3 linked regions of the Homo sapiens genome follow. The protein of the gene in region 1 purifies or fractionates together with the protein of each later gene. This does not show direct contact. Each region holds a gene or a part of one and is shown in the gene's direction. Other genes may lie near its edges.

Region 1 (3,745 bases):
GGGTTTCATGGTGTTAGCCAGGATGGTCTCGATCTCCTGACCTCGTGATCTGCCTGCCTCGGCCTCCCAAAGTGCTGGGATTACAGGTGTGAGCCACTGCGCCAAGCTTTTATTTATTTTATTTTTTTTTGAGACCGAGTCTGGCTCTGTTACCCAGGCTGGAGTTCAGTGGCGCTATCGGCTCACTGCAACCTTCACCTCCCGGGCTCAAGCAATCCTCTAACCTCAGCCTCCAGAGTAGCTGGGACCACAAGTACACGCCACCACGCCTGGCTAATTTTTTTTTATTTTTAAATTTTTTTGCAGAGACAGGATCTTACTCTGTTGCCCAGGCTGGTCTCAAAGTCGTGAGCTCAAGCAGTCCGCCCATCTCAGCCTCCTAAAGTGTTGGGATTACAGGTGTGAGGCACTGCGCCAGGCCACAACTATAAATCTTGACCTTCCCTGTGCTCTCTCCCTGCTTTTTCTTCCTTCTAGAGCCTGTATCATTTTTTTTTTTTTTTGAGACTCTCTCTGTCGCCCAGGCTGGAGTGCAGTGGCACAATCTCGGCTCACTGCAAGCTCCGCCTCCCGGGTTCACGCCATTCTCCTGCCTCAGCCTCCCGAGTAGCTGGGACTACAGGTGCCCGCCACCCTGCCCGGCTAATTTTTTGTATTTTTTTAGTAGAGACGGGGTTTCGCTGTGTTAGCCAGGATGGTCTCGATCTCCTGACCTCGTGATCCGCCCGCCTCTACCTCCCAAAGTGCTGGGATTACAGGCGTGAGCCACCGCGCCCGGCCGAGCCTGTATCATTTAACTAACTATGTATATTACCTATTTATTTCATCTATTATCGGTCTCCTCCTTCTAGGATACAAGGGTGGTGCCTATTCTGTTTCTTATTGTTGTTTTCCTTGCTGCTTGGAACAGTGCCTAGCATACAGTAGGCACTGGATAAATGTTGTTGAGGCCACCACTGTACTGAGCACTAAAGTTGGAATAATGAGGCTAAGCACAGTGGCTGACGCCTGTAATCCTAGCACTTTGGGAGGCCAAAGTGGGAGGATCGCTTGGGCCCAGGAGTTTGGGACCAGTCTGTGTAACACAGTGAGACCCCATCTCAACAAAAAATAAATAAAAATTGAGCTGCGTATGGTAGTGCACACCTGTAGTCCCAGCTACTCAGGAGGCTGAGGCGGGAGGATCGCTTGAGCCCAGGAGGTCGAGGCTGCAGTGAGCTGTGATTGCACCACTGCACTCCAGCCTGGGCGACCGCGAGACCCTGTCTCTTAAAAAAACAAAAAGATGGAATAATGAGCAAAACCTGAAAAAGTCCATGAAGCTTAAGTGTTGGGCAGCATTTCACTAATTTTCGTCTTGAAGCATTTCACTAATTTTCGCTCCCTACCTGGGGAGCACTAGGAAGTGAAGACTCTGGCTCCACCCCTGGAGATTCTGGGGGAGGTTGGCAGAGGTGTGCACACTGCGGAAGCGCCCCCGGCGGTTTGGATTCGGGTCACGTGCGGGTCACTCCGGTGTGCTGGGGATGGGTTGAAATTAAAACTTTCCGGGATGCCTGGTGTTCACGCTAACAGCACTGTCCACTCTCTCCTAAACAGTGCTTACGTGCCCGTCTCCCCTCTAAACCCTGAGGTGTGGCGCTGAGATGGCACCTCGCTCCTCTCTGTGCCCCCTGGGCTCAGCACCGCGTAGATGCGAGTTAATTTTTATTGAGAACGTGAATGAATGAGGGGGAATGAATGGTTAGAAGACGAATGAATGAGTAACAGGACTCTGGTTAGAAAAGGAATTTCAAGAGTCAAGATCTGGAAGGTGGGAAAGTTTCCAAAGACTTCCGCTACGCGCGCTAGGGCTCTGGAGGGGCAGGTACTTTAGAGGTCGAGACGCGATTGGCCGCCTGGGAAGGTGGCTGTGCCGCCGGCTGCTACGCGCGGGGCCAAGGAGTCGCTGGCCGCAGGGGAGGTGCTGCCAACCACCCGGCCCCCAGCGGCGCGCGACTCACGGCCTGGGTGAGCAGCCAGGCCTGGCGCCGCCGTTGCCATAGTTACAGACGCAGCCCTGCGAGGGGGCGGGCTCTGGCCGCACGTCATTCCCGGCGCGACGCTCCTCCGCGCTCCCGCCTCCTCCTGGTCGGAGACCCTCGGCCAGCCTAGCGGGCGCTCCACCTGCGCGCCGGCTCACCGCTGCCCTGCGCCGGTTCTGCGCCGGCGCGGTACGAGGGCGCGCGGTTGGGCGGGGGGGGGGGGGGAAGCTGCGAGGCGCATGCGCGTTGCAGGGCCGTCCGCTCTGCTGCCGCCGCTGTTGCAGCCACCGCCGTTGCCGCCTCCCTGCCGGCAAGTGTGTGAAGAAGAAGCTGAGCGTTGTCGCCGCCGCTATGGGGGTGAGTGAGGCAGAGAGAGGAGATGGGAGGTCCAGGGGCGCTCCTCGCTACCCTCGCCCCCTTTGTTCTTAAACCCCCCTCTCACGTGACCCCGACCCCCTCCAGCCTCACGTGACCCCTGACCCCCACATGACCCGACTCCCCCATTCTAAGGGTCCCTACGCTAGGCCTAGCCCGGGAATCCTCTGGAGAGCCCCTGGTCCGGGGCCCCACCCCCTCGGCGCCCCCAGCGTCACGCCCGCCCCTTCCTGCTTCGCGGACCCGTTACTGGCCTCCCCACCACCGTCCCCCGCGGGGACCCTGGGGTTAGCTTCCCGCTCCCCCAGGGTCACTCATCACCTGGCTGTCACCAGCTTCGTCGCTTTTCACATCCGAGGTCAACCCTGGCTTGGAGGGAATTGAGGCCCAGAGGAAAGAAGGCGCCTAGCCAAGGTCATATTGTCGGGGGCGTCAGACCCCACCTTGGGCCTCCCGAATCCCAGTCCACTGCCCTTCCCGTTACTCGAGTCTCAGCGAAGCCGGTTCCCCTACACTCTTTCGAAACCTCTCCACCAGGTTCCTGCTGCTCCTGATAAACACAGCCTTCCTTTCCCATAGACTCCTGCCTTCGACGCCTCCTGGTTGCAATGAAATGGTTCTTACGACCGCTTGGGTTGTTAGGGGTTTTGGTAGTGCAGGTGTTTTTTGCAAGGGGAGGGCTGTGCAGGTGTGCGGGGAAGATGCGGGGAGGCGGGGGCGGCGGCCCAGCCGCGGATGGATATTGACCACTTGTTCCGTGCCGGCAGCCTGGAGGTGCATTTTAGTTTACTTTCCCGGGATATAGGGTAGGGCAGAAGTTATTTGCAAGTTTCTGTGCGTTCACCTTACTAAGTCTCAATTACAGCAGTATCAGTCACCCTCCTAAAAAGATAACGCTTTTCCTAGTATTGGCTGTATTCTTTTTTTTTTTTTTTTTTTTTTTTTTTGATATGGAGTTTTGCTCTTGTCGCCGAAGCTGGAGTGCAATGGCGCGATCTCGGCTCACTGCATCCTCCTTCTTCTGGGTTCAAGCGGTTCTCCTGCCTCAGCCTCCCCAGCAGCTGGGATTACAGGCGCCCGCTACTATGCCCGGCTCATTTTTGTATTTTTAGTAGAGACAGGGTTTCACCACGTTGGCCAGGCTGGTCTCGAACTCCTGACCTCGTGATTCACCCGCCTAGGCCTCCCAAAGTGCTGGGATTACAGGCGTGAGCCACCACACAGGCCTATATTAGTATTTACATGGAATTTCCATCACCTTAAGGGAACCCTGACTTTGGAGCCCGAGGTACCTCACTTCCAGCCCCGTCTTCGCTGCTGGTGGTATAATAGTGTGCCAGTGAGTT
Region 2 (3,690 bases), on another chromosome or scaffold:
CCTCCCCACTAGGGCTGGACCCAAAGGAACTAGGTGCCCTCCTGGTCTGGCCTAGGGTTTTATGACACTTGAACAGGGTTGAAGGGGGAGGGTGGAGAGTAAAGCAAGAGATGTGTGGTCTGGGGAGAGGCAGGAGAACCCCAGGCTGCAAAAGGGGGAGCCTAGCTCCTACAGCAGGCGTAGGGAGGTGGGGAGACAGGCTTGGGGTGCACCATAGTCCTCAAAGTGGCCCAGCCCTGACGCTTTCTGTGTCCCACCCCCAGATGTTTGTCCACGTGGCCGAGGTGATGGGCAAGCATTATGGGATGGTGCCAATCCAGGTGAGACACCTATCTCTGGATTCATTGGCCCCAGGCCCCGCCACCCCCATTTGCTGGTGTCAGGACCCCTTCTCTTTCAGCATCTGGACCTCTTAGTTCGTGACTCATCCCACCCCAACAAGGCAGGGCAGGGGCATGTAGGCAACATCTTCCAGGTGAGTGGTGCAAGGGGATGGGGTGGAGGGGCCATGGACAGGGCAGAGGTGGGGAAGACATGGGAGGCTGGACCTCCTAGCTCAGAGCACTCCTCTCGCTGCCTCACAGAGATTGTCTGGCAGATACCCCAAGGTGCAGGAGCTGCTGCAAGGGAAGCGAGCCCGTTGCTGCCTCTTGCCTGCCCCAGGGAGGCGGCGGATGAACCAAGGCCATGCAAGCCCTGGTGGTGAGTGTCTCTGAGAGCTGAACCTCTCTTGCGCTGCTCCCAGCTCCCCTCCGGCAACCGAGCCCCTTGAAGCACCCACCTCTCCTGGCCTCTGACACCCCTTCTCCTCCCAAAGCCCGCAGTCTCTCAGCATGCACATCTCTCCCTCAGACACAGATGATGACTTCCGCCACCTTCTGGGGGCCTACGTCTCAGATGTGCTGAGTGCGGCCCCCCAGCACGCTAAGAGCCGCTGCCAGGGGTACTGGAACGAGGGGCGCGCCGTGGCCAGGGGGGACAGACGCCTACTCACGGGGCAGCAGCTAGCTCAGGAAATCAAGGTGTGAAAACTCCCTGGAGACCCAGGCGACTCGGCTGGGCCCCTGCTCTCCCTGACCCCAGCGATGGTATCTCCGCAGAACCTCTCAGGATGGATGGGGAGGACAGGGCCCGGTTTCACCTCTCCGGATGAGGTATGAGCGCTGGGGGATCCAGCATTCTGGCAGGGAGACAGGGGAGGCAGGGAGGTGGGGGCTGTGCCGAGGCCTCCGGGGTGGGGGTCTGTGTGCCCTGGGAGTGGAGATGAGGAAACAAGCAGCGCCCCTGGCTGAGAAGGAAGGAAGGAGGCAGCCTGGGTTTTCCCGTGGACAGATGGCTGCTCAGCTGCACGACCTGAGGAAGGTGGAAGCTGCCAAGAGGGAGTTCGAGGAGTATGTGAGGCAGCAGGTGAGCCCCGGGGCTGCACGGGAGGCAGGTGTGGGCCGGGCAGGGTCCAGATCAGGGAGAGGATACCTGGGACTCCTGGTCAGGGCACCTTCTTTTCCCCTCCCTGTCACAGGACGTAGCCACCAAGCGCATATTCTCTGCGCTGCGGGTCCTGCCAGACACCATGCGGAACCTCCTCTCCACCCAGAAAGATGCCATTCTGGCCCGCCATGGTGTGGCCTTACTCTGCAAGGGGAGAGATCAGACCTTGGAGGCACTGGAAGCTGAGCTGCAGGCCACGGCCAAGGCCTTCATGGACTCCTACACGATGCGCTTCTGTGGCCACCTAGCTGCTGTGGGGGGTGCTGTGGGGGCCGGGCTCATGGGCCTGGCAGGGGGCGTGGTGGGTGCTGGCATGGCAGCAGCTGCACTGGCTGCAGAGGCTGGGATGGTGGCTGCTGGAGCTGCCGTGGGGGCCACAGGGGCCGCTGTGGTTGGGGGTGGCGTGGGTGCTGGGTTGGCTGCCACAGTGGGCTGCATGGAGAAGGAGGAGGATGAGAGGCTTCTGGAAGGGGACCGAGAGCCCCTTCTCCAGGAAGAGTAACAGCCCCAGGAGGTATTGAAGGACAGGAGAGATGTCAGGTGGGGATGAAGAAGAGGGGCAGGTCGGGGGAGGGTGATGCCAGGGATTCCAAGGCACCGCCATGTACTGCACTGCCCTGGTCGAATGCTCGGTGTCTGGGTGGCAGCTGAGCTGGGACTCAAGGTGGCTCTTGGAACCTGGGAGGCAGCATCTGGGGGCAGTGGATAGAACACCCGGCCTGTTTCTGGTTGCAGATGGTTGCCGATCTGCCCTTGTCACAGATAGGCTACATCCCAGGGTTTCTGGCTGCAAGTGAGACTCCACCCTCCCCACCTGGCTCATTTCCCCGATGACCCTGGATTGTAGGAAAGTTAAGCAGGCACCATCCTGGAAGTCTACCCCTAGGTGGTCGAGAGACCTGTTCTTTCACAGATGTGAGAAGCCCCAGGATGATTGACCATGGTGTTCAGGAGCGGGGAGCACTGATGAGGTGCTGGGGATGACAGGAAGGAAGGAACACTGGGCAGAACCAGAGAGATGGGACATGGTAGACTGTGGCCCAGACCCCAGAGCAGAGAAACTTGTTCCCATGACCCTTCCCAAATCTGCTCCAGCAGGACTAAGGTGGCTTTCCCACTCCTGGCCCACAGCCCCAGAGAGCCTGTCTGTGCATCCTGAACCACTCTTTGCTGGGCCTCCGCAAGGGCCTCTCTTGGGTCTGTGTCCTTTTTCAAGCCTGTTTAGATGGGGGAGTGCCCATGCCCTCTGTGAAGTGCCCAAATGCGAAAGAATAACACCTTTTCTTGCATTCTGAGCTAAGCCAGACAGCCTTTATACTAGATTCTATCAAAATCTTGCAAAGGAAAACAAAATGAACAACTTCTACCCTTAAACACATCCTTTCTCCCCTGGGCTTGTAAGAAGATGCAGCTTGATGCAGCTCCTCAAACACCAGGCCCCCTGGGAACTGGGGGTGCGGGAGTTCTCCCTCTGGGGGACAGAAAATCTGACTACTAGGAAGACTTCTAGGCTATGAAACTGACTTCTAGGCTATGAAACTTACAGGGTATGGGTGGGCACATTATCCTTTATTTTATGAAAAATAAAATGTGTGTATGTGAATGTCAGCTTCCCAGTATATTATTGAAACAGAATTTAACCCTCAGATGACTTCATGGTGGGAGCAGGTGAACCAATGAGATCCATTGCTGGAATGCACAGATGGGAAGAGGGAGATTGGAATTCAAGAGATCCAAGGAAGTGAACGTCAGAGGTCCCCATTCAGTGGCTGCAAGAGGCCTCAGGCCAAGGCCAAGTGGATATGGGCACCTTTGCAGGCTCTTCCACTAGGACTTGGGGTTCCGCTCCTCTTGTCTCCTCTCTGAGAAACTGCTTCCCATGATCCTGTCAACAGGCAGTCAACAAGCACCTGTCCCAGCAAGAGGACAGAATGGATACATAAGCAGAGAGAACTTGGTCAAGCCTTGAAGGAAGGAGAAGCCCAGGACCACTTCTGCAGGGCTCAGCCAGCCAGGAGTTCACCCAACTGATTCTCCTCCCAGCCCTGCTCCCCAGCTCCCCAGCTCCCCATCTCAGAACCACAGCAGTAGTCACTGCATCCAATCCTGGCATTTTATAGGTGCACACCCAGAGAGAGAAAGTCTCAGATAAGCCTGTGCAGCTGCTGATGACAGAAGCAGGGGAACCCCGAAGTCCTGGTT
Region 3 (3,745 bases), on another chromosome or scaffold:
CGATCCAGCCGCCTTGGCCTCCCATATTGCTGGGATTACAGGCGTGAGCCATCAGGACCAAGTGTCCTTTTCACATTCCATTTAGTGATATGTTTTTCACGTTTTTGTACTTTTTGTTGATGTTGCTGTTTAAAATGGTCCCCAAGCGTTGTGCTGTATAGTGCTCCTAAGCACAAGAAGGCTGTCATGAGCCTTGCAGAGAAAATAGCAGTGTTAGATAAGCTTTGTTGAGGTATGAATTATAGTGCTGTTGACTGAGTTCAATGTTAATGAATCAACAATATATATTAAATAAGATGTCTTTAAGCGGAAACACACATACAACAAAACTATGTATTGATTAAGTTGATGAAAATGCGACCAGAGGCTTACAGGATCCTAATCCTGTATTTCCCTTAGGAGTAATGATTCAGTATTTACTAATTCAGTGTTTCCAGCAACTTTACAGAACCTAACTACTGCAAATAACAAGAATCAATTACATACTGAGGGAAAGGTTTTTTTCAAATACACTTTACTTCCTTTTATGCACCAGGGATAAGAAAAGCCTTCCCAAGAAATTACCACTGTTTCAAAGAGCCTATAAAAGCAGTGCTCCTGCCTTCTAGTATCCTTTTCCCCTCTACTCTCCACACTTTATTCTTTCTCGGTTTCTCTCTTCCTGTTTCTTGCAGGGTCTCCACTTAAATAATGTCTTTCAACAATCTACAGTCCTATAATACATTTAATAAAGGTGGACACACAAGACATACAAGTACTTTTTTTTTTTTTTTTTTTTTTTTTGAGACGGAGTCTCGCTCTGTCGCCCAGGCTGGAGTGCAGTGGCTCGATCTCTGCTCACTGCAAGCTCTGCCTCCCAGGTTCACGCCATTCTCCTGCCTCAGGCTCCCGAGTAGCTGGGACCACAGGCGCCCGCCACCACGCCCGGCTAATTCTTTGTATGTTTAGTAGAGACGGGGTTTCACCGTGTTAGCCAGGATGGTCTCGATCTCCTGACCTCGTGATCCGCCCGCCTTGGCCTCCCAGAGTGCTGGGATTACAGGCGTGAGCCACCGCGCCCGGCCCATACACGTACATTTTAAAGTGAGAGCTATGGCTGTGCTTCCGCAACATTAATTGCAAAATTCTGTGGTACCTCAGTTCCATGGGCACCCAGAGGATGCGTTGTTCAGCCTCAGCTGGGAATCTGCACTTTGGGCAATTAAAAATTTTCACTGCTCTGTTTATTTCTGCCGGGCGCGGTAGCTCACTCCTGTAATCCCAGCACTTTGGGAGGCCGAGGCGGGCGAATCACTTGAGGTCAGGAGTTCGAAACCAGCCTGGCCAACATGGTGCAACCCTGTCTCTACTAAAAATTCAAAAATTAGCCGGGTGTGGTGGCTCATGCCTGTAATCCCAGCTACTTGGCAGGCTGAGGCAGGAGAATCGCTTGAACCCGGGAGGTGGAGGTTGCAGTGAGCCGAGATCGTGCCATTGCACTACAGCCTGGGCGACAAGAGCGAAACTCCATCTCAAAAAAAAAAAAAGAAAGAAAGAAAGAAAAAGAAAAAAAAGAAAGTTTATTTCTGTTTCTTTAAGACGAAGTTCGGGTGTTTTGCCCTCTTCAGAAATGGTTGCACGCGCGTCCCACGCTCTGCGCATGCTCCTTGAGCAGAATTCCGGGTTAAGGCATTCAGGGACTCTGACTGCGCAAGATGGAGTGTAGGCCGGCCGGCGAGACTGCACCTCCCAGCATGCCTTGCAGCCAGGACTGGAGTCGGTACTTAAGAGTGATGGGGTTCCCTAGATACTTTAGGCCGTCGCATCGATTATAGAGATTGAGGTGGAACCCGGGGCCTGGGAACTGGACGCACGCGGAGGGCGAAGATGGAAGCCTGGCGCTGTGTGAGGAAGGGCTACGGCCACTGTGTGGTGGGAAGAGGCCGGTCAGTAGGGCTGGGTACTCGGAGGGAGGAGAGAGGGGCGGGCGGCCTGAAAGAGCGGGCGGGCGTCCGGGACTAACCCGGGGCGGGGCGGGGCGGGCTAGGGGTGGAAGGAAGAGGAAGAGGGTCTGGGCGATGGTGCATCCGGGACGAGCCTCCAGAGACCAAGCGGGATAGGTAAACCCGCCGCGCAGCTGGCGGGACGCTGGGCCAACGAGGTCTGGGGTCTTGGCGCGGAGTTCATGGGCCGCCGGCCAGGCTTGTGCCAGTGGCTTTGGATCCCTGGCCTGCTTCCCCCAACCCAGCCTCCAGACCAGCGCTGGCCTGCTCCACACACTCCGCAGCACCGTCCCGGGAACCGAGCGTCGGCGGGGAGGCCGCCTCTCCGCAGTAGGTCTCGGCGGGCCTGATCCCTTGGAGGCGCGTGTGTGGCACACGCCCAGGAGGGGCTTGATTTTTGTTGATGTGTTAGTGTCTTTCAAACTTTAGTCACTTGTATGTCATCCCTTACTGTTATGGCCAAGTTCTTGTTTCACGTGTATTATTTACTGGATATTTTTCTTTAAATTGACTCAGTTTTTTTTAAAAAGCACTTCAGTAGGTGCTGCCCACATTAGCTTCACCCTAAGCAGTGTCTGCAGAGTCTTGGATTTGATGTGCGATTATGTTTTTTCCTAATAAACTAACATAAGTATTTAGAAATTACAATCAAGTAATTTAACTGTGTACTCTGTGAAACCGACTCGTGTACCACCCACCACGCTTGGGAAACACAGCATGTATTATTACATAAGCGATGGGGATTTGGTTGTAACTCCCATAGGCCTGGGACTTGATGGTAATTCAGTTCAACAATGTTTCCTGAGTACCAGCTGTTTGCCAGGCACTGTGCTAGGCACTTGTGAAGATAACGGAATTAAAATGAATAAGACGGTTCTGTTCTGGCCCTGAAGGAGCTTAACATCTTAAGAGAAAAAAAAGTCTGAATAAATAACTGCAAATATAGATAATAGCTTTTGTAGTACAAGTATTATATTTCAATACAGTGGCTTATTAGCATAGAAAATGCATGGACCAAGTGCCCAAATTCCTATGGCTTTCAGAGTTATCACAAAGCAGTGTAGAATGCCCATGTTATGCCTTTAAAGATTTACAATTAAGTAGATTTTAGAGAACAACTAGCGAATACTTAAACTGTAAAAATTATAATAAAAATTTAAATGCTGTTAAAACGAGAATAACAGCGTATAAAGTTAAATAACAGTAAACGCAACTTAAACAAAATTCCCTTAGGGATGGGAGCGCACATTATTGATGCTGTGGTAGAAATGTAGCTGTTAAGAATTTTGGAGGAAAGGATAAAAGTCCTTCTCTGAATCTTAACATTTTGCCAAAGTAGTATAGTGAGAGGAACATGGTGCTTTATTAAGCTGAAGTGTTTCTTGAGAGCCTGAGAGCAACATACCTATTAAAAATGTTAGCGCCACTTTGGAGATGTTTTGGATGATGGGTTAAATTGAAGCTGTTGGTTTGGAGTGTTGGTGCATTCGTAGTACGTCATCCCCATCCTCTTTCATTTCCCCCAACGAGAATCATGCTTAAAAAAGAATGGAGAAATAAATTATCCACCCGTTGATTAGTAAGAGAAGTAGTTTTGTGAATTTATGAAGTTGTGGATAGGCTTTTGTTTTCCTAACTATACAAGTGTTTGGAAAAATCTGCCCTTGGTATAAAAAACTGTTCAGAAACTTGTTATTACTCCAAGTTGGAGGAGAGGTTTACTTTAATTGTAGTGTGATATGAGTTCCTTATTCGATTTCAGT

Evidence for each region.
Region 2: the proteins of NAA40 (region 1) and RNF112 purify together in Homo sapiens (affinity purification with mass spectrometry; 2 studies listed by BioGRID, with this or other methods). This does not show direct contact.
Region 3: the proteins of NAA40 (region 1) and ANGEL2 purify together in Homo sapiens (affinity purification with mass spectrometry; 2 studies listed by BioGRID and IntAct, with this or other methods). This does not show direct contact.

Annotation. Positions count from the first base shown.
Region 1 is NC_000011.10:63,936,722-63,940,466, forward strand, and holds the start of NAA40 (N-alpha-acetyltransferase 40), read left to right. Parts: upstream 1-2,280; 5' UTR 2,281-2,375; coding exon 2,376-2,381; intron 2,382-2,609; exon of another isoform or gene 2,610-2,813; intron 2,814-3,745. UniProt on the Homo sapiens protein: N-alpha-acetyltransferase that specifically mediates the acetylation of the N-terminal residues of histones H4 and H2A.
Region 2 is NC_000017.11:19,414,186-19,417,875, forward strand, and holds the end of RNF112 (RING finger protein 112), read left to right. Parts: intron 1-263; coding exon 264-320; intron 321-400; coding exon 401-475; intron 476-560; coding exon of another isoform or gene 561-584; coding exon 585-702; intron 703-852; coding exon 853-1,022; intron 1,023-1,100; coding exon 1,101-1,154; intron 1,155-1,332; coding exon 1,333-1,407; intron 1,408-1,519; coding exon 1,520-1,990; 3' UTR 1,991-3,091; downstream 3,092-3,690. UniProt on the Homo sapiens protein: E3 ubiquitin-protein ligase that plays an important role in neuronal differentiation, including neurogenesis and gliogenesis, during brain development.
Region 3 is NC_000001.11:213,013,793-213,017,537, reverse strand, and holds the start of ANGEL2 (protein angel homolog 2), read left to right. Parts: upstream 1-1,670; 5' UTR 1,671-1,866; coding exon 1,867-1,925; exon of another isoform or gene 1,926-1,929; intron 1,930-2,030; exon of another isoform or gene 2,031-2,164; coding exon of another isoform or gene 2,165-2,312; exon of another isoform or gene 2,313-2,389; intron 2,390-3,745.